3 linked regions of the Homo sapiens genome follow. The protein of the gene in region 3 purifies or fractionates together with the protein of the main gene of each other region. This does not show direct contact. Each region holds a gene or a part of one and is shown on either strand. Other genes may lie near its edges.

Evidence for each region.
Region 1: the proteins of RPL7L1 (region 3) and DDX18 purify together in Homo sapiens (affinity purification with mass spectrometry; 2 studies listed by BioGRID and IntAct, with this or other methods). This does not show direct contact.
Region 2: the proteins of RPL7L1 (region 3) and BOP1 purify together in Homo sapiens (affinity purification with mass spectrometry; 2 studies listed by BioGRID and IntAct, with this or other methods). This does not show direct contact.

Annotation. Positions count from the first base shown.
Region 1 is NC_000002.12:117,810,051-117,817,705, forward strand, and holds the start of DDX18 (ATP-dependent RNA helicase DDX18), read left to right. Parts: upstream 1-4,640; 5' UTR 4,641-4,727; coding exon 4,728-4,812; intron 4,813-7,393; coding exon 7,394-7,655. UniProt on the Homo sapiens protein: ATP-dependent RNA helicase that plays a role in the regulation of R-loop homeostasis in both endogenous R-loop-prone regions and at sites of DNA damage.
Region 2 is NC_000008.11:144,281,424-144,288,445, reverse strand, and holds part of BOP1 (ribosome biogenesis protein BOP1), read left to right. Parts: intron 1-7,022. UniProt on the Homo sapiens protein: Component of the PeBoW complex, which is required for maturation of 28S and 5.8S ribosomal RNAs and formation of the 60S ribosome.
Region 3 is NC_000006.12:42,875,320-42,882,633, forward strand, and holds the start of RPL7L1 (ribosomal protein uL30-like), read left to right. Parts: upstream 1-4,296; 5' UTR 4,297-4,591; coding exon 4,592-4,632; intron 4,633-5,541; coding exon 5,542-5,647; exon of another isoform or gene 5,648-5,763; intron 5,764-7,314.

The sequences.
Region 1 (7,655 bases), on a different chromosome or scaffold from region 3:
ACAATAGCAAAGTCATGGAACCAACCCAAATACCCATCAATAATAGACTGAATAAAGAAAATGTGGAACATATACACCATGGAATATTATGTAGCCATAAAAAGGAATGAGGTCATGTCCTTTGCAGGGACACAGATCAAGCTGGAAGCTATCATCCTCAGCAAACTAACACAGGAACAGAAAACTGAACATCACATGTTCTCATTCATAAGTGGGAGTTGAACATTGAGAACTCATGGATACAGAGAGGGGTACAACACACACCAGGGTCTGTTGGGGGGTTGAGGGTGAAGGGAGGGAACTTAGAGGATGGGTCAATAGGTACAGCAAACCACCATGGCACACATATACCTATGTTACAAACCTGCACGTTCTGCATGTGTATCCCTTTTTTTTTAGGAGAAATAAAGAAAAAGAAGAAGAGAAAAAAAAGAAAAAGGACATTAGTGGAAAAACTAGTGAAATCTGAATAAAGTCTAATTTAGTTAATAGTGATTCACTAACGTTAATGTCTTTATTTTGATAAATGTATCACGGCTACATAAGTTGTTAACGTTAGGGAAAACTGGGTAAAGGGCACTGTTTTTGCAACTTTTTTGCAAGTCTAAAATTATTCCACATAAGAAGTGTATTAAAAATAAATTCATTTCCATCCTCTTATTTCCGCAACATACTGTACAAGCAAGACTCAGTCTGTGATTCAATCATCAGTGGTCAGACTATGACTCGAAGGGAAGGAAGTCAAATGCAGTTCATTTTAACATTGTCACTATCCCCTTATTCACTCAAGCCTGACCCAGCCCCTAGACTCTTTCCCCCTGCAAATCTCCTCTTATGCTCCTGACTACAAATCTGCTCTTGATCCCTTGAATTGTTACTTAATAGCATATTAAGACTTGTCTTTGACAGCCTTTTCTCTGACCTTAGATCTTTGCCTCCTCAAAAAATACCTCCCACCTGAATAGCATGCTGTCCTGCCCTCCCACCCATCCCTCTTTATTATATTGCATTGTCTGGTTGTAATGTCTTCCCAGCATTTAGCTTCATGCAAAGGTATCTTGTTCAATCACAAGGTTTACTTATACCTGTCGTCTCTTATCCAGGCTGTAATCTCCCTGGAAATGAGGACTTTTCCTGTCTTGTTTACTGCTGATCCCTGAGGCCTAAAACAGTACCTGGAATGGATAGATGGTATTTTTTTAAATTAATAAATGAATAAACTTCTTGACAGAAAAGTTTCTGTTATATGTTTCTGTATCCTCTCCAGCTCCTAGGACCACTGCAATAATGACTTGTCATGAATTGTGGTGATGCTCTTTAAAATAATCTCTCACTCTTATGTCCATCAGTTCACTGAAGAAAACCTTTCTTAAGTACCAGCCATCTGCTTTCTACAATGTAGAAATACACAGAACCAGATGCTGGTCCAGGAAAGTCAGGTAATGTGAAGGAGGCAACATCATGCTTATTTACAATAACATAGCACTTTTTAAGTTCCAATACACAACAGAGTGGTTAACCTTATAGAAAATAGCATTTGAAAGTTCCTAGAAAATCACTTCAAGAGTCCTAATGCAGTGATCCGAGAGGATGAGTCAGTTATTTCTGGCTCACAATTCTATGATGTTGGTGAAATAGATTGATTTCTTTTCCCAGTGAAGTGGGACGTTTTTAATTTGAATGACAAACTACACAAATCTGCGTTTTATTTTACAAACACTTGTCTCAGGTTTAAGGATCTCAAGTGAAAACTGAAAAACAAAACAGCATGAATAAGACCTGTTCTATGTTAAACTTAATTATTTTTAGTCAGGAGGTAAAAGACAGAAACTCCTGGCCAGGTGCGGTGGCTCATGCCTGTAATCTCAGCACTTTAGGAGGCTGAGGCGGATGGATCACCTGAGGTCAGGAGTTCGAGACCAGCGTGAATAACATGGAGAAACCCTGTCTCTACTAAAAATGCAAAATTATCTGGGTATAGTGGTGCATGCTTGTAATCCCAGCTACTTGGGAGGCTGAGGCAGGAGAATCACTTGAACCCAGAGGCGGAGGTTGCGGTAAGCCAAGTTCGCGCCATTGAACTCCAGCCTGGGCAACAAGAGCAAAACTCTGTCTCAAAACACACAAACAAACCAACAAAAAAAAGACAGCAACTCCCTTCCTGCTTCTGCCTGCTGCTGGCTCAGTCCCTATGCATAATGAATATTGAATGACAGACTCCATCCCCAGACCCCTTCCCAAGGCTAGGATGTTGCTCCTGTGATGTGCTTCCTTTTCACTGCATTCATCATAGTTTACCATAATCGTTTAATTTTCTGTCTTCCTTGTAAGCTCTGTAAGCTCCACCTAGGCGAGCCAGGTCTATCTTGTCCACCATTTTATACCCAGGATTTGGCACATGCCTACCACACACTCTTAGCACAAAAATGCTCAAAAAATAGTTGCATAATGACTATATTATGCGATTGTTTTATGGCGAATGACCATATTCTGAAGAGAGAGACCTCTGTGATGGAGAGCCCAAGCAAGAAGTTTTAAAGACTGAAACGCATTCTGAATAGATACTGGGATAGGCTCCAGCTGTGAAGAACAACAGGCTTTTCAGAAGCACGTGATTGTTACCTCATCCTCACAGGTAATTTTTGAGTAGCTAACCCAATGACATTGTTTTCTTTGCTAGAGTAACTGATGATGTGGCCTTGGAAATTCACTCTGTTAAAAATAACTCTCAACCCTAATTTTGAGAGTTGATTTGAAGTTATAATTTCTCATTCTTCTTCTAAAAATCCAGAAGAATTGGCATCAGTAGCTTTATCTATGTTTCTTAAAAGGTTATCAATCCCTAACGTTAAGCATTTCCATGCACCTGAAAGGATCGGCTTCTCTGATCTAAATGTCTTAAACACCTCGTAAATGTGGGTTTTTTTGGTTTTGAGGAAATGACTGCCAATCTTCACTACTAGCTAGAAAAAGTCACACTCTAGAAAAAAGGGAGTACCTTTCCATTACTACTACCAAAACATAGCCCCACAAATTTAAGTTACAACATAAAAGAAATAACAAATTTTGAGCACTTTCTATATATACTTCAGTTGTATCTATTTCAAAGTCACAGACCCAAAACTCACACATGTAATCAGGTAAATATATATGTATGTACATAGAGCTATAGAAATAGATACATATGTGTATATGCATATATATACTGATATATGCATAAATTTAAACTGGCATATATATTTACACTGAGATAAATGTTTGCGTGTGTGTGTGCGCTCTTACATTTCTGAATCATTCTTCAGCCTGCCTGATCATTAACAAATTAATCTAAGCACATTATTATTTGTTTGTCTTAGTTTTCCAGTCCAATCCAATGTGATTTCGAAGTCAATTCCTTCACATTCTGTTTAAACTCCCTCCCAAGTTTTCTCCCTCTCTGTTCCTCACTATGATCAGGTCTAATCTCCAGGGTCTCATGTTCTGCCCCTCCAAGTAAACAAATTAATCCAGGTTTCATGGACTCTTCCAGTTGTTCAGCTCAAATTGATTACTGTTAAGGGGAATTTGAGGGCATTGGGCCAATTTTTAAAGACAAATATGAATTTTTATGGAAATCTCCAAGTATTTTAATGTTGATAACAATTTTTTTAAAAATTAAATACTATATGCATACCCCTGTCTTCCTCCCCATCCCAAAAAAGAGATGACTATTAGCTAGCCACATTGCAATTTCTGTCCTGGACTGCTGAAGGGTCCTTGGGTATACTTAAGGAATATATAAACCTCTTTTTCAAACTGCAGTCAACCTATTATTAATGTAGTAAAGTTAATTTAAATTCATAGGAATCAGTATTTTTAGTAAGCTAAAAAGAATAATTTAGGATGGAATGAATGGAATTGAAGGAAAAAGAGTGAAAAGCAAGAATATTATTTTGAGAAATGTTATATTTATGTGTGTATGTGTACCAAGTGACACAGAAATTGTATTTCTGAGGAGAGTGGCCAAACAAGTTTGGAAATGCATATATATAATTTAGTTCTATTCAGTTTCCCAAATACAGTTGTCCCTCAGTATCCACAAGGGATTGAGTCCAGGACCCTCTATGGGTACCAATATCTTAGGATACTCAAAACCCTTATATACAATAGTGTAATATTTGCATTTATTTTACACACAACATCCTGTATACTTTAAATCATTTCTAAATGACTTATAATACCTTATACAACCTAAATGCTATGAAAGTAGTTATCACACTGTATTATTTTTAATTGTTTTTTTTTTAATGTTTTCAATGGGGGAGTTGGTTGAATCCACAGACAGGGAATTCAGGTACAGGGAGGGCCAACTCTAGTTCTGCACCCACAGAGGATAGGAACATAAAAATGCGGACTCCCTAAGGCCTCCTTCCCCTCCACGTTCTTTCTTCAGTCTTCCTCTAGGGGGAGCTCAAGTTAGCTTTAGCACAGTGTGAAGCCAGTGCAGCGTCTCGCTTCCACTTCTCCAGGGGGCGCTGCAAAGATTTTGGTCGCCAAAGATATCACGGTGCGCGCGTCTGGAAGCATTTCCGCTCTGGAGCATTTTCGTTCCGCCGGGTGCCAGCGTTCCTGTGACGCGTTTCCTGTTGGCCGAGCTGCGCACGTGCGGCCGGAAGGGAAGTAACGTCAGCCTGAGAACTGAGTAGCTGTACTGTGTGGCGCCTTATTCTAGGCACTTGTTGGGCAGAATGTCACACCTGCCGATGAAACTCCTGCGTAAGAAGATCGAGAAGCGGAACCTCAAATTGCGGCAGCGGAACCTAAAGTTTCAGGGTGAGATGCGTTGACTCGCGGTGGCTCAGAAGACCCACGCGCGAGCCCTGGCGCGTTCGGGCGGCCGGGGGCCCAGCTGCTCTGTGTGACGGAGGCAGCTTCCCCTGCAGCGTGTGTGATTGGGGAGAGTGAAAAGGCAGCTTCCACTCGGGACCCGCGCTGCTGCCCACTCGTCGCGTGGCTCCAGCGCTGCTCCTGACCTTTCTGAGCAATCAGTGTCTTCTTACAACGTTAGAGCGGGAGGACTCCCCGTTCACTTCTAGGCTTACGACTAACCCTGCCTTTTGCATTTCCACCTTAGCTTTTGGTTCCCTCACCACCTGCAAGTCGCACCTCACCTCATCCCTCATTTCCGGTTATGCTGCATGAAACGTCTCATTTCCACCCACTTTTCACATCTATTTAATTCCCGTATTTCTTTCCCCAAAAGCCCGTCTGGCTGTTTCCACAGAGCTTCTTTGATACTATTGCCTTCCTCTACCCACTTCCACACGTTCTCGTAGCACTTTCTCACCAGAGCTTCTACGTATTTGTGTCCCGCACAGTGACCTAAATGAAAAGGATTTTATCTGAATGTCACCTTTCTTACCTACCTCATTTGCAGTCCCAGTGTCCTGACAGTGGGGCCACAGATCTTGAAGTAATTGTGTTAACCTGTTGTCCAGGTTAAGATACAAACTCCCCGAGGGAAAGTTTGGAGGCACAGTGCCTTGCCCCAGTTGGTTTTCAACAGACATTAATTGAAAAAAAATTCTGCAGGAGGCAATAGGTTTGTGAATTTTAGGAATATGTTTTGAAATACTCTTGTATTTCTAATTCCTATAGAATAATACTACAGCATTACTACTTTTCAGCGCATATGTAAGTAAATTTGAACAAAAGATGGTGTTTTATCTTTTTCAGTAAACAAACAGGGAACCTTTGGTAAGGACATTCTCAGGTACAGTCATGCATCGCATAACAGGAGGGGGGATACATTGTGAGAAATGTGTCATTAGGGGCTTTTGTCGTTTTGCGAACTTTATCTAGTTACACAAACCTAAATCTACTACACACCCAGGCTACATGATATAGCCTGTTGCTCGTAAGCTGTCATCCTGTACAGCATGTTACTGTACTATACTCAGAGAATTGTAACACAATGGTAAGTGTATGTATGGCTAAATATATCTAAACATAGAAAAGGTACAGTAAAAAGACTATGACATGAGAGATTTAGAAAATGGTACCTCTGTATACAGTACTTACCATGAATGGAGTTTGCAGGACTGGAAGTTACCCTGAGCGAGTCAGTGAGCGGTGAGTGAATGTGAAGGCCTAGAACATTACTGTACACTATAGACTTTATAAACACTGTACACTTGGGCTACACTGTTGAGTTTTTTAATACTTTTATTCTTAAATTAACCTTAGCCTGCTGTAACTTTTACATTATAAACTTGTTAAATTTTAACCTTTTGACTTTAATAACACTTAGCTTACAACACAAGCACATTGTACATACAGCTGTACAAAAAGTTTCCTTTTGTCCTTATTCTATGTGATTTTTATTTTATTTTTTTTTCTTTTTAAGCTTTTTGTTAAAAATGTAAAGACACAGACACATTCAGTTTCACTGTCTTCCGCTTCCACATCTTGTCCCACTGGAAGATCTTCAGGGGCAACAATAGGCATGGAGCTGTCATCTCCTATGATAACAGTGCCTTCTAAAATACCTCTCTCCCTGAGGCTCTTTTACAGTCGACTCATTTTTTTTTAATAAGTAAAAGGAGTAAACTCTAAAATGATGATCAAAAGTATAGTAAACACATAAACAAGTAACATAGTTTATTATCACGTATTATGTATTGTACATAATTATGTGTGCTGTACTTTATACGACTGGCATTACAGTAGATTTGTTTATACTAGCATCACTACAAACATGAGTAATATGTTGCACTACGACATTGCAGTTACTGATGGCACTAGGTGATAGGAATTTTTTAGCTCCGTTATAATCTTATGGAGCCACTGTATATGTTGTCCTTAATTCACAGAAATGTCATTGTGCACGCATTACTGTATTTGCATATGATAAATATTGGAGCAAATAAGTGGTCTTATCAACTGAATTTTCAACTCACTGCAGTCTAGAAGAGTTGGGGTTGAATGTTTTGAAGTGGTATGAAAAATAGTACTTGTGTGAATGAGTTGTAAATGTCTTTTTCAATATATCAGTTAATCATATGTTTATCAAATACTTATGTTTATTCTGTAACTGCCATTATCTGACCTCATCTGTTTAAATATTTGACCTCATTGAAGTTTTCCTGTCCTAGACTCCTTAAAGTCAGATGTACGGTCTTTTGCAGTTAAGAAATCAATATAGCTTTCCCTTTTCCAGTATTTTTTCTTTAAGATAACTTACTTTCCCTATAAGGGAACACCATAAAACTATAAGTTGTTTTAATTACATGAAAGAGAAGAAAATCTAAATAATTTGTGTCAGGAAGCCATGGAAGTTCTCATTTGGGATTTCAGTGTTTCTAAGTAAACTTCTCCTTCTTTGTCACAGTATATGTTCTGTTTATTTAAACAGGGGCCTCAAATCTGACCCTATCGGAAACTCAAAATGGAGATGTATCTGAAGAAACAATGGGAAGTAGAAAGGTTAAAAAATCAAAACAAAAGCCCATGAATGTGGGCTTATCAGAAACTCAAAATGGAGGCATGTCTCAAGAAGCAGTGGGAAATATAAAAGTTACAAAGTCTCCCCAGAAATCCACTGTATTAACCAATGGAGAAGCAGCAATGCAGTCTTCCAATTCAGAATCAAAAAAGAAAAAGAAGAAAAAGAGAAA
Region 2 (7,022 bases), on a different chromosome or scaffold from region 3:
AGTAATTCTCCTGCCTCAGCCTCTCTAGTAGCTGGGATTACAGGTACATGCCATCACGCCCGGCTAATTTTTGTACTTTTAGTAGAGACAGGGTTTTGCCGTGTTGGCCAGGCTGGTCTCGATTTCCTGACCTCAGGTGAGCCACCACGCCCGGCCTATTTTTTTTTTTTTTTTCTAAGACAGAGTCTTGCTCTGTTGCCCAGGCTGGAGTGCAGTGGGGCGATCTTGGCTCACTGCATCTTCCACCTCCTGGGTTCAAACAATTCTCCTGTCTCAGCCTCCTGAGTAGCTGGGATTACAGGTGCCCACTACCAGGCTCGGCTAATTTTTTTTTGTATGTTTAGTAGTGACGGGGTTTCACCATGTTGGCCAGGCTGGTCTCGAACTCCTGACCTCAAGTGATCTGCCTGCCTTGGCCTCCCAAAGTGCTGGGATTACAGGTGTGAGCCACCGCGCCCAGCCCAGCATTTGTTACTCTAAACATTCTGGAAATCGTTTGTAAGGATTTACTCTCCCAGTAGTTTCGGTGTTCTGGAAGTTACGGCCTTGGCAGAGGTCCCCGTGATAGAAGCCAAGGAACCATGGCTTGTTCATTGTGTGCTAGCTGTGTTGGGTTGGCTTGTTTGCTGGGAAGAAAAGATTTAAAATCACACTTAATTCAGGCTTTAATTATACCACTAACATACACAGAGAAAAAATGATGTGCTGTGTTGGCAGTGGTTTGTAAGATTATGGACAACTACGTTACCCCTTCTTGAGTTTTTAAAATGATACAATACTGGGCCAGGCACAGTGGCTCATACCTGTAATCCCAGCAGCTCGAGAGGCCAAAGTGGGAGGATCTCCTGAGCCCAGGAATCCAGGTCACAGTGAGCTATGATAGAGCCACTGCACTCCAGCCTGGGTGACAAGCAAGACCCTGTTTCAAAAAAAAATTATGAGATAAAACATCCTGGAAAATAATGTAGATATTGTAGCAGCACCATTCAGTAGGGTGGAAGCTCCCACTCAGGGCCCTCACACCTAACCCGTGAGCACAGTTAGTGGTCTGGTGTACATCTTTCTGGGTCTTCTGTCCCTTTTTAAATTAAGGATTTACACATTTACATGTTAATGATTTTTTTATTAAATTCTTTCAGCGGGCGTGGTGGCTCACGCCTGTAATCCCAGCACTTTGGGAGGCTAAGGTGGATGGATCACCTGAGCTCAGGAGTTCAAGACCAGCCTGGCTAACATGGTGAAACCCTGTCTCTACTAAAAATATAAAAATTAGCTGGGCGTGGTGGCGCGTGCCTGTAATCCCAGCTACTCGGGAGGCTGAGGCGTTAGAATCACTTGAACCTGGGAGGCGGAGGTTGCAGTGAGCCGAGATCTCACCACTGCACTCCAGTCTGGGTGACAGAGTGAGGCTCTGCCTCAAAAACCAAAACAATGTTTTCGCATAATAACATATCCAAGTACTTGAAAGGTACTAGAGGTGTCTGCGGAGTCTAGGGAGGCGCCATCTTCTCTTCTCGCTGCTTGTCTCCTGGCCCCTGGAGCACCAGGTCCTCTGCACTGCTGAGTGTGTGCTTGTCCTGCCCATTGCCCTGCTCGGGTTTCTGTGACCGCGTAACTGGCTGCCCCATGCAGGGTGTTTTCCAAAGTACCGCTGTCTGTGGTCTGTGTGCTCCGTCATCCAGCAGGGCCTGAGGTGGCAAGGCCGGCCGGGCTGGTGGGGCGGTCCTCAGAGTTCCCCACGCTGCTGGCTGCCCAAGTCCCTGCCTGAGGCCCTGCCCTGTTGTGGCGCTCATGCACCTGCCCGCGTGTCCTGTGCTTTAGCTGAGGGGCCGAGGCCCTGCCCTGCCATGGCGCCCGTGCATCTGCCCGCGTGTCCTGTGCTTTAGCTGGGAGGCCGAGGCCCTGCCCTGCCGTGGCGCCCATGCACCTGCCCGCGTGTCCTGTGCTTTAGCTGAGGGGCCGAGGCCCTGCCCTGCCGTGGCGCCCATGCACCTGCCCGCGTGTCCTGTGCTTTAGCTGAGGGGCCGAGGCCCTGCCCTGCCGTGGCGCCCATGCACCTGCCCGCGTGTCCTGTGCTTTAGCTGAGGGGCTGAGGCCCTGCCCTGCCATGGCGCCCGTGCATCTGCCCGCGTGTCCTGTGCTTTAGCTGAGGGGCACCTTGGGCCCTGTCAGGGTGTTTTCAGTTCTAAAGTGTGATCCTCATGACTGGGTTTAAATTCTTCCAGGTCAGGAGAATGAATTGATGAGGTGGGGGTGCTTTCAGCTTCTTAGTGGGAACCCCTCCCTTTTCCCCCCTGTTCATCAGAAGCCACCCAGGCACCTTGGCCTGCTGAGCGGCCACTCCCTCCTGCCTGCCCTCCGCGCCCCTCTTGAATGGTGGGAGTCCTTTCCCATTGTGCAGCCCTGCAGGTGGAAACTCAGCCGGCAGCCCAGTGCTGCCTCCTGCATGTTCTCTTGGCTTCCATGAGCGTGGCCACGTGAGGCCTCCCAGAGTGCCGCCAAGATGGCCCCGTCATGCCCAGTTAGTGGCCTCAGGTTAGGCCTGTTTCTGTGTCATCCCGAAGGCAGTCCAGGGCTCCTTACGCCTGTATCTCCGCCACCTCCCACTCGCATCGTGGGTCCACGGGGCCGGGCCACCAGGGGCTCTGCCAGACACCCTCGCCCGCCACAGCCATCTGGAGGATTCTGCCCCCGATGCCCCTGCCAGTGGTTGTGGGTCCTCAACCCAAGAACCCTTCCGTTGAGCGGCTTCTAGAATCAGTGCCCCTTGGTTCTGGGAATTCACACCACAGTGACACAGCAGCTTCTCCTGCTGCTAAGTGTCCTTGCCCTGCAGTGGGCGCACCTGGGATTCTGTGGTCCTGGCCACGGCCACTCGTGTGGTCTTGCAGATGGTTCATGGGCCTCGGTGGGTTACTTGGTAAGTGAGGGTAATGTCTGCCTGGCAGCCCCTGAAGGACGAGATGATGTTTTTGCTAATTTCTCTTCTGCCACGTGCTTCTGCCTGTCCCCCCACTCCCTCCTGTCGCTGTTTCCTCCACAGTGGTTGGCAAGACGTGGCCCCTGTGGCCTCTGCCTCGTGCATCTGAAGGACATCCCAGCCACAGCATCACATCAGACTGGAACAGTGGCGGGATGGGGCTGGGCATCAGGCAGCATGCATGTGTCATGTCACGGACACCTCAGGGACACACGAAGTCAGGCAGGGCGAGGGCCTCACTCCCCAGGCCGCCTAGCCCTTGGTGGGTATACCCGGCCCCGATGGTGCTGTGAAGAAGGGGCTGTGTGACTGGCATGGGAGGGAGCTGCGGCTTTTGTTCATCTCTGCCATCCTGGCAGCGATGTGGCTGATGGGTCACCTTCAGAGAGCCTCCTCCATAAATCTGATTCCAAGTGTGTGCCCCAAACCAACCCAGACCGGCCCGGGGCGTCCTGCGGAGAGCCCCACAGTGGGAGGCCCTTGTAGCGGGGAGCCCGGTGACTGCTGGGGGTCAGCTGCTGGCGGCCCCTGTGGAGACCTGGCGACCTGCCAAGGGCTCCGGACCTGCCTGGGTGGACCCAGGGTGGGCGTGCTTCTGGCTGCAGGGCCGGGCCACAGGCTTCCCTCTGGCTTTCTGCCCTCAGGCCTTTAGCATTGACATGCACACGACCCTGCCTCCTTTCTAAGGACTGTGTAGAATTACGTGGCATTCAGTGAGCAGCTGCACGTGGTGTTCTAGGGCACCTTTGGATGCTCAGGTGCTCCTGAGGGGTGTGCCAGGGAACGAGTCTCCTACCCTTCCCTCCTGGCTCCTGTTGCTGCATCCAGGCAACTACTGTTTCCAGTGCTGAAGTCTCTTTCCAGGATGTTCTAGACATATCCAAACTCGCACAGAGTTTTTGAATGGTGGTTTCTTAAGAGAAGGGGCAGCCGTGCGCTGTCTCAGGATGGTTCTGTCAGGGAGGCCATGGCTCTGGTTTGTACAGTGCTTGGTGCCCGTAGAGTGCCTGGCAGCTCGGCCTCAACAGCTCCAGTGGGTGGGCAGTTGCAGGCTTTTGCTCTTACAGTTGACCTGACAGTAACATGCTGTTTCTCACATGTGCACACCATTCTTGGGGAAAATTCCAAGAGAATTTCTAGGTCAAAGGATAAATGCTTTTTTTTGTTTGAGACAGGGTCTCACTCTGTCACTCAGGCTGGAGGGCAGTGGTGCGATGTTGGCTCACCAAAATCTCAACTTCCTGGGCTCAAGGGATCCTCCTACCTCAGCCTCCCTGGTAGCTGGGACTACAGGGTCCCCGCCACCATGCCTGGCTAGTTTTGTTTTGTTTTGTTTTGTTTTGTTTTTTGAGACAGAGTCTCGCTCTGTCGCCCAGGCTGGAGTACGGTGGTGCAATCTCGGCTCACTGCAACCTCCACCTCCTGGGTTCAAGTGATTCTCCCGCCTCAGCCTCCTGAGTAGCCGGGATTACAGGCGCCCGTCATCACGCCCGGCTAATGTCTGTATTTTTAGGAGAGACGGGTTTCACCATGTTGGCTGAGCTGGTCTCGAACTCCTGACCTCAGGTAATCCACCTGTCTTGGCCTCCTGAAGTGCTGGGATGACAGGCGTGAGCCGCCGCACCTGGCCATCAATGCATTTAATTGTGAAGGTGCTTGGAGCGTCCCTCCGCTAGGCGGTGATGCCATGCACTACTGCAGCCGCCCCTCAGCTGCTTTCCCACCACCAGCCTCCCTCATGGTGTTGCTGCTTCATCTTTTCCTCTTGTTTAGTGATGTTTTTCTTTCATTAAGAATGAGGCTCGCACAGCTGGGCTTAACTGAAAAAATAAAAATAAAAAGAATGAGTCACAGGCTGGGCCCAGTGGCTCACACCTGTAATCCCAGCACTTTGGGAGGCCAAGGCAGGTGGATCTCTTGAGCCCAGGAGTTCAAGACCAGCCTGTGCCATATAATGAGACCCCATTTTTACAGAAAATTTAAAAAATGAGCCAGGCATGGCGGTGCGTGCCCGTGGTCCCAGTCCCGGAAGCCCTTCTGTCTCTTCCCTGTGGCGGCATCATCCATGCACTTAGCTGGCTGGAAACCCTCATGGCTGTTGCCCAAGGGCAGGACAGCTAGCTGGTTCTTGTCATTTTGGTCTGAGCTCCCTGGGCCAGGAGCCCTTTGCTGTTTTCTCTCTGTTTGTTTGTTTTGTTATCTGGCACCACAACAAACTGCCCCAAACCATGGAGCCTTTCTTTTTTTTTTTTTTTTTTTTTTTTGAGATGGAGTTTTTTTGCTCTTATCGCCCAGGCTGGAGTGCAGTGGCACAATCTCGGCTCACTGCAACTTCTGCCTCCTGGGTTCAAGCGATTCTCGTGCCTCAACCTCCTGAGTAGCTGGGATTACAGATGCCAGCCACCACGCTCGGGTAATTTTTTTTTTTTTTGTATTTTTAGTAGAGAGGGAGTGTCACCATGTTGGCCAGGCTGGTCTTGAACTCCTGACCTCAGGTAATCCACCTGCCTTGGCCTCCCAAAGTGCTGGGATTACAGGCGTGAGCCACCGCACCTGGCCACCATAGTGCCTTTCAACAACGAGCATTTGCTGTCTGTGTTTCTGGGGTCAGGAGTCCTGGTGTTTTGTGAGGTGCACTCAAGGAGCAGGGTCTGGCTGTGCCCTTTGCAGCTCCTCCCCTGACTGTTGGCATGAGGAGCTCAGGAGTGAAGGTGAAGAAGGGTACTCTGTGTCTGGGGGGTGGTCAGAGGATAGGGATGAGGACAGGGACAGGGCCCAAGAAGATGGGGTGGGTGCTGTACCTCCCCCTTCCTTCCCTGGGGTATCTGTGGGCCACGGCAGGGCCCACAGCTGTTGCTAGTAGCCTCCTTGGGGCCAGTGGGTTTGATTTATTTTTGTGTTTGTGTGGTTTGAGGGCAGGCATCCCTTCCCCACCCTTTGCGTCCCTGCTACAGTGACCCCTCTTTCTGGGTCCACCTGCTCTGGCACGAGCTTGGTGGGCCAGCCTCACCCCAGGGCCCACCCCATCTCCAGCCTCCCTGCCTTGGGCCTGGCAGTCCTGCCTCTTAATTGCGTTCTGTGCCACCTGATGACCCACGAGTTCTGTCTCCTGGCCTGGTTCCTACTCCCTGGGACTTTCTGCAGCCCCTGCCCTTCCAGCTGTTGACTGTGTCTGCGAGCCATCCCACTGGAGGGGCGCCCTGGGCTGTGTGCTCCCTGCCCTGCAGCACCCCTGACACGGGTGCTCCCAGCCCTCCACTGACCAGCCAGGGAGGAAGCTGCCTCCTGCCGGCCTGTGCCTCGCTTCCTGTCCCCTCTCCAGCAGCACACGGCAGCGCGGGCCGCGGGCTCACCGGAGCGAGGACTGGTTGCAGGGCCTTCTCTTTATCGCTGGTGTCTAGTGGATCTGTGGGGTCCGTGCGCTCAGAGCTGTTTTTTCCTTTCTGTGCTCATTTAGATTCATTTTTTTCCCAGCTTTGCTTGGTTTTGTCTTTTCATTTATGTGAGTTTTTCTTTTTATTATTTTGTGCAGAAGTTTCTGTTTTTATCAGTTAATCTGCTTGTCACAGTCAAGAATGTGAGAAAAGACTGGATGCGGTGAGCCAAACCTGTAATCCCAGCACTTTGGGAGGCCAAGGTGGGCGGATCACTTGAGGAGTTCGAGACCAGCCCGGCCAACATGGTGAAACCTCATGTGAATTGCTTGAGCCTGGGAGGCGGAAGTTAGAGTAAGCTGAGATCATGCCACTGCCTCCATCCTGGGTGACAGAGTGAGTGGGACTCTGTCTTGAAAGAAAAAAGCACTAGTAAGAGAAGGCCTAAGACCTAGTATTAAAGTAAGAGAAGGCCTAAGACCTGGTATTAAAGTGAGAGAAGGCCAAAGACCTGGTATGAAAGTGAGGGAAGGCCGAAGACCTGGTATTAAACTGAGGGAAGGCCGAAGACCTGGTATTAAACTGAGGGAAGGCCAAAGACCTGGTATGAAAGTGAGAGAAGGCCGAAGACCTGGTATTAAACTGAGAGAAGGCCAAAGACCTGGTAT
Region 3 (7,314 bases):
CGATTCCAGACTCTACTACTATTTCCCAAAAAGACCACCGTCAGCACTTTTTCATATATGCTTCCAAAATTGTTACATACAAATATACCTATAACTGGCCGGGCGCGGTGGCTCATGCCTGTAATCCCAGCACTTTGGGAGGCCGAGGCAGGTGAACACCTGAGGTCAGGACTTCGAGACCAGCCTGGCCAACATGGTGAAACCCCATCTCTACTAAAAATACAAAAATTACCCAGGCGTGGTGGCGGGCACCTGTAATCCCAGCTACTCAGGAGGCTAAGGCAGGAGAATTGCTTGAACCCAGGAGGTGGAGGTTGCAGTGAGCCGAGATCGTGCCACTGCACTCCAGCCTGGGCGACAGAGCGAGACTCTGTCTAAAAAAAAAAGAAAAAAGAAAAGAAAAACAATCTGGGGACTGGGCACGGTGGCTCATGCCTGTAATCCCAGCACTTTGGGAGGCCAAGGCAGGCAGATCACGAGGTCAAAAGATTGAGACCATCCTGGCCAATATGGTGAAACCCCATCTCTACTAAAAATACAAAAATTAGGCAGGCATGGTGGTGTGCGCCTGTAGTCCCAGCTACTTGGGGGGCTGAGTCAGGAGAATTGCTTGAACCTGGGAGGCAGAGGTTGCAGTAGGCCGAGATAGTGCTACTGCACTACAGCCTGGCGACAAAGCGAGACTCCATCTCAAAAAAAAAACACAAAAAACCAAAACAATCTGGGACCATTTTTTTACACCCTAGTCTGTATTCCATATGTTTGGGACTGTTACAGTCAGGATTATTTGGTTGTAAACAACAGAAAATTATTCTAGTTAACCAACATAAAGGGATTTTGTAAGGAAGATAAGAATTAAAAAATTGAAGAACCCATGAGGCTTGAGAAGGACAGAGACAAAGAAACTCTAGGAGGTTTTCTTAGGTGGAAATCGTTAAAAGTTTTGCCCCTGACTGGGTGCGGTGGCTCATACCTGTAATCCCAGCACTTTGGGAGGTCGAGGTGGGCAGATCACTTGAGGTCAAGAGTTCGAGAGCAGCCTGGCCAACATGGTGAAACCCATCTCTACTAAAAATACAAAAATTAGCCGGGCGTGGTGGCACACGCCTGTAATCCTAGCTACTCGGGAGGCTGAGGCGCGAGAATTGCTTGAACCTGGGAAGCAGAGGTTGCAGTGAGCCAAGATTGCACCACTGCACTCCAGCCTGGACGACAGAGCAAGACTTTGTCTCAAAAAAAAAATAAAAATAAAAACGAAAAAAAAAAAAGTCTTGTCTCAAATCTGGTGCTTTGTTCCATCATCACTCTGCTTAAAATTCAAAATCACAGAGAAATTTAGCATCTCATACCCACTCCCAATGGGGTGATGAAAAGAATTGAAAAGATCTTCCAAAGACTCCTTCAGTTTAAGTATTGGAGGGCAAGCGTTTGGATTTGATATCCTCCCAACAGCTGCCCAAATGTACATGATGAAGAGGAAATAAGTTCACAAGAGGACTGGAATTTTTTTTTTTTTTTTGGTGGGGGGAGACAAGGTCTCACTCTGTCGCCCAGGCTGGAGTGCACCGATTCTCGTGCCTCAACCTCCCAAGTAGCTAGGATTACAGGTATGCGCCACCACACCCAGCTAATTTTTGTATTTTTAGTAGAGATGGGGTTTCACCATGATGGCCAGGCTGGTTTTGAACTTCTGGCCTCGGGCGATCTGCCTGCCTCAGCCTCCCAAAGTGCTGGGATTACAGGCATGAGCCACCACACCTGACCTCAGTAACCTCACTTTGAAAAAAAATCTAGGACACATGCTCAATGCTCAATAAACACATATTCAGTTAGTGAATAATTGTTTAAGAGGTGGGGCTCCTTTCTTTTTCCCTTTGTCAGTCTGGTGGAGTAAGGGGATTGGCACTGAGAATAAGTATTCTCCTAGCACCATCTGCTGGCAGTAGAAAGCCATTCCTGAATCCTGGCCTCAATCCCATTCAGTCTTGGAGTACTGGTTTTTTGGGGGTTGTTTTGACACAGATTCTTGCTCTGTTGCCCAGGCTGGAGTGCAGTGGCATAATCTCGGCTCACTGCAACCTCCGCCTCCCAGGTTCAAGCAATTCTCGTGCCTCAGCCTCCCAAGTAGCTGACTACAGACATGTGCCACCATGCCCGGCTAATTTTTGTATTTTTGGTAGAGACAGGGTTTTGCCATGTTGCTGAGGATGGTCTTGAACTCCTGAGCTCAAGTGATCTGCCTGCCTCGGCCTCCCAAAGTGCTGGGATTACAGGCGTGAGCCATCGCCGCCTGGCTGAAGTATTGTTAACCCTAAAATTCCTCCTCCTTTTAATATTATTGGTACCACAGACTCTACCTTTTATCCATAGACAGGAAAAATCACAAAACATTTAACTTTTTGCTTTTTTGTTTACTATTTAGTGAATGTCTTACACTTTGGTGACCCTTGTGTTTAGCCTCTTTACAAAGACACATGGTGAGGTGCTGAAAGAGAATGAGCCTCCCTCTTTCAGTGTGTGACCTTGAATGCTGGGTTGTCCTGACACTTACTCATCAGAAAGTGACCTGTGCCCATGGCACTCTTTCCGGTTGGACTAGTTACATGGCAACACGAGGCCTTTAGCTGCCACCAGTATCAGTATCAATAGTGCCAAAATCGAGAAATTGGTGCTAGATCCTTAGGATCAGTGATGAGTAAGCAGTCATGGTTCCTGCCCCCCCTAGTATCATGTGGAAGAAATATTAAAAATATAATAATGTCCTGAGGGAAATCAGACACTACTCTAGAGTCTTACTAGTCAGCCCATAGACCAGTAGCACCAGCGTCACTCTGAAGCCTGTTAAAAATGCAGAATATTGGCCAGGTGCGGTGGCTCACGCCTGTAATCCCAGCACTTTGGGAGGCCGAGGCGGGCGGATCACGAGGTCAGGAGATCGAGACCATCCTGGCTAACAAGGTGAAATCTCTACTAAAAATTCAAAAAATTAGCCAGGCGTGGTGGCGGGCGCCTGTAGTCCCAGCTACTCGGGAGGCTGAGGCAGGAGAATGGCGTGAACCCGGGAGGCGGAGCTTGCAGTGAGCCAAGATCGCGCCACTGCACTCCAGCCTGGGCGACAGAGCGAGACGCCATCTCAAAAAAAAAAAAAAAAAAAAAGCAGAATATCAGCTCCCCACCCGGCCTCCTGAATAAAAATCTGTATTTTAGTAAAATCTTCAGGTGACTCCTATTCACTATTAATGCTTGAGAAGCGCTGCTCTGGAGGTTTCCAGAGATGATAAGACTTGTGTTGTTTTTCAGGATTTTTAATTTTAAAAAAAATTTATTTCTTGTTTTTTTTGAGACTGTCTCGCTCTGTCGCCCAGGCTGGAGTGCAAGTGGCACAAACTCGGCTCACGCAGCCTCCGCCTTCTGGGACTTCAGGCGCGAGCCACCACGCCCAGCTAATTTTTTGTATTTTTAGTAGAGACGGGGTTTCACCATCTTAGCCATGCTGGTCTCCAACTCCTGACCTCAAGTGATCCACCTGCCTTGGCCTCCCAAAGTGCTGGGATTACAGGTGAAAGCCACCGGCCCGACCTACTGTTTTTCAGGATTCTATATAGACTGGGAGGGAAGAACGCAAATTCCGGGCGATGAGAGCTGCATAAGGGTTTTATTTTTATTCTTTTTTTTTCTTTTCTTTTCTTTTTGTTTTTTTGAGACGGAGTCTTGCTCTGTCGCCCAGGCTGGTGGGCAGTGGCGCGATCTCGGCTCACTGTAACCTCCGCCCAAGACGGGGTTTCGCCGTGTTGGCCAGGCTGATCTCGAACTCCTGACCTCAGGTGATCCTCCCGTCTCGGCCTCCCTCCCAAAGTGCTGGGATTACAGGCGTGAGCCACCGCGCCCGGCCTGTGTAACGGTTTTAGACGGGAAGGAAGCATGTTGTAGTTTTCGGTCCAGCAGTAATAGTAACAAACATAGTGCTGACAGACACTGCTAAACGCTTTATCTAATCTCCTGTAATCCTCGTAACGCCATTAGGTAGACCTATTATTACTGTACACCCATTTTATGGGTAATGAAGCCGCAGTATAGAGGGGTTAAATAACGTGTTCAAGGACGCATCGACGGGGCCAAGCAGACGGAATTGCAGCTACCTGCTTTACCACTCTAAGTCCTCAACAAACACTTCCACCTACACGTGAGAGCCAAAGCCATAGCCTCCAAGTTTTTCCACAGAGCGAAAATGTTTCGCGGAGTTTGCCTGTCTTCCTCCCCAGAGACGCAGCACAGCCGCGCCGGAAGTGCGGCGCCGTAGCTAGGAGCGGACGCCATAGGTGCATTGTGGGAAGCACTTTGCTGTCCACAGCCAGGCCGCTTGTGATGAAACTGTAACTTACAAGAAAAGGGCTGGGTTTTGAAAATAACACAGGCTCTAAAAACCCTAAGAAGCGGTGCAACTTTTGGCAGGAATCGGGGTTAGCGGGACCTCAAGGGCTCACTGCGGCTAAGTGAACGCTGACTGGTCCTCCAGCGTGAGCTAGAACAGACGTCTCTATGGTCAAGTAAACAGAGCGTGTGCTGTCTTCCCCATGTGGTGGGGTTGCGCATGATCAGTAGCTGCACCACTAGAAAGATGGCGGAGCAAGAGTGAGTGTTTGGGGCTTTGAATATCTGGAGTGGGGTCTTGAGTATCCGGTGCCATCCACGGTGTTTATGCCTTGGTGGCGGATTCCTGTGGGCTCTAGGAATAGAAAAGGCCACAGTTTACAAAGGGTGGGGGTGAGGAGGAGTAGCGCTGTGGCGGAGGAGGGAGGGGACCGCGGTCAAGTTCGGGTTATCTGGAGAGGCGAGGATTGACTTCAGGCAGCGGGCTGGAGTGCCACAGTTGAATTCACCCAGCCCGACAAGTGTTAACTCTGCAGATAGGCCTGCCCCCGCCCCAACCCCATAGATTCGTCGCTGCTAGTGCCTATGAAGAACTGTGGCCGTGAAAACCCTGTTAACTTATACGAACCCAGAGGCTAAAGGATTCATTATTTTCCGAGGCTTTGGGGATGAGTGACTATTAGGGATGGATTTATGAGGCCTGGAGTCAGAAACCGCAGGTTTCAGGGGAATCTTTCTTCAGATACTTGAAAACAGTAATGTTCCCTAAAGCCCAGGATATTGAATTGGTTTGGAAATCCATTGAATGTTCGTTTTCTTTTTTGTTGTTGTTTTTGTTTTGAGACGGAGTCTTGCTCTGTCCCCCAGGCTGGAGCGCAGTGTCGGGATCTCGGCTCGGTGCAACCTCCGCCTCCCGGGTTCAAGCGATTCTCCTGCCTCAGTCTCCCGAGTAGCTGGGATTACAGGCGTGCGCCACCACGCCCAGCTGATTTTTTATTTTTAGTAGAAACGGGGGTTTCACCATGTTGGTCAGGCTGGTCTCGAACTCCTGACCTCAGGTAATCCACCCACCTCGGCCTCCCAGAGTGCTGGGATTACAGGCTTGAGCCACCGAGCCCGGCCAAGTGTTCTTTTCTAAATGTTATCTCTGATCTCAATTTTCTGCATCAGGCAAAGAAAAATCCCTTTGGTTCCAGAAAATCTCCTGAAAAAGAGGAAGGCTTATCAAGCCCTCAAAGCCACCCAGGCAAAGCAGGCACTTTTGGCAAAGAAGGAGGTAATGGTGGGGAACCAAGAGAAAGTAATTAGAATTTTTATTTGGTGAGTTTTATCCCGCATGTGTTGGACTACATTTGGTATTGACGAGCTCCCCCCAACGGTTTGACAGACCAGGTATAGTTGTCTCTCAGTGTCCTTAAGGGGTTGGTTCCAGGACTCCCACAGATGCCTAAATCTCAGACTGCTGAAGTCCCTTATATAAAATGGTTGTAGTAGGCCGGGCGCGGTGGCTCACGCCTGTAATCCCTGCACTTTGGGAGGCCGAGGCGGGCGTATCACGAGGTCAGGAGATCGAGACCATCCTGGCTAACACGGTGAAACCCCGTCTCTACTAAAAATATAAAAAATTAGCCGGGCATGGTGGCAGGCTCCTGTAGTCCCAGCTACTCGGGAGGCCGAGGCAGGAGAATGGCGTGAACTCGGGAGGTGGAGGTTGCAGTGAGCCAAGTTCGTGCCACTGTACTCCAGCCTGGGCGACAGAGCGAGACACTCTCTCAAAAAATAAATAAATAAATAAATAACTGGTTGTAGTATTTGCATATAATCTATACTCCTTCCGCCTATGTAGTTTAAATCCTCTCTGGATTGCTTAATAGCTTTATTTATTTATTTATTTATTTTGAGGCAAGAGTCTCACTCTTGCCTAGAGTGGAGTGCAGTGGCACAATCTCGACTCACTGCAACCTCTGCCTACTGGGCTCAAGCAATTCTCGTGCCTCAGCCAACCAAGTAGCTAGGATTACAAGCATGCGCCACCACACCTGGCTAATTTTTTTTTTAACTTAATTTAATTTTGTTTTGTTTTTTGAGACAGAGACTCACTCTGTCACCCAGGCTGGAGTGCAGTGATGCGATCTTGGCTTACCACAACCTCCGCCGCCTCCCGGGTTCAAGCGATTCTCCTGCCTCAGCCTCCCAAGTAGCTGGGATTACAAGGATGTGCCACCATGCCCTGCTAATTTTTGTATTTTTAGTAGAGACCGGGTTTCACCATGTTGGCCAGGCTGGTGTCCAACTCATGGACTCAAGTGATCTGCCCACCTCGGCCTCCCAAAGTGCTGCGATTACTGATGTCAGCCACCCCACCCGGCCACCGGCTGATTTTTGTATTTTTAGTAGAGATGTTTTGACATGTTGGCCATGCTGGTCTCAAACTCCCGGCCTCAAGTGATCACCCACCGGCCTTCCAAAGTGCTGGGATTACAGGCCTGAGCCACCCTGCCTGGCCTGGATTACTGATAGCTAATACAGTGTACATAATGTATTTTAAAAATTTGTATTACTTTTTACGGTTATTTTTCATTTTTTCCCCTGAATTTTTTTTTTTTTTTTTTTTTAAGAGTGAGGTCAGCTGGGCTCACATCTGTAATCCCAACACTTTGGGAGGCTGAGGCGGGCAGATTACTTGAGGTCAGGAGTTCAAGACCAGCCTGGCCAACATGGTGAAACCCCATCTCTACTAAAAATACAAAAAATTAGACGGGCACTGTGGCATGCGCCTGTAATCCTAGCTAATCAGGGGGCTGAGGCAGGAGAATTGCTTGAACCCGAGAGGCGGAGGTTGCAGTGAGCTGAGATTGTGCCACTGCACTCCAGCCTGAGTGACAGAGCAAAACCCTGTCTCAAAAAAAAAAAAAAAAAAATAAGTGGGGTCTTTGGCCAGGT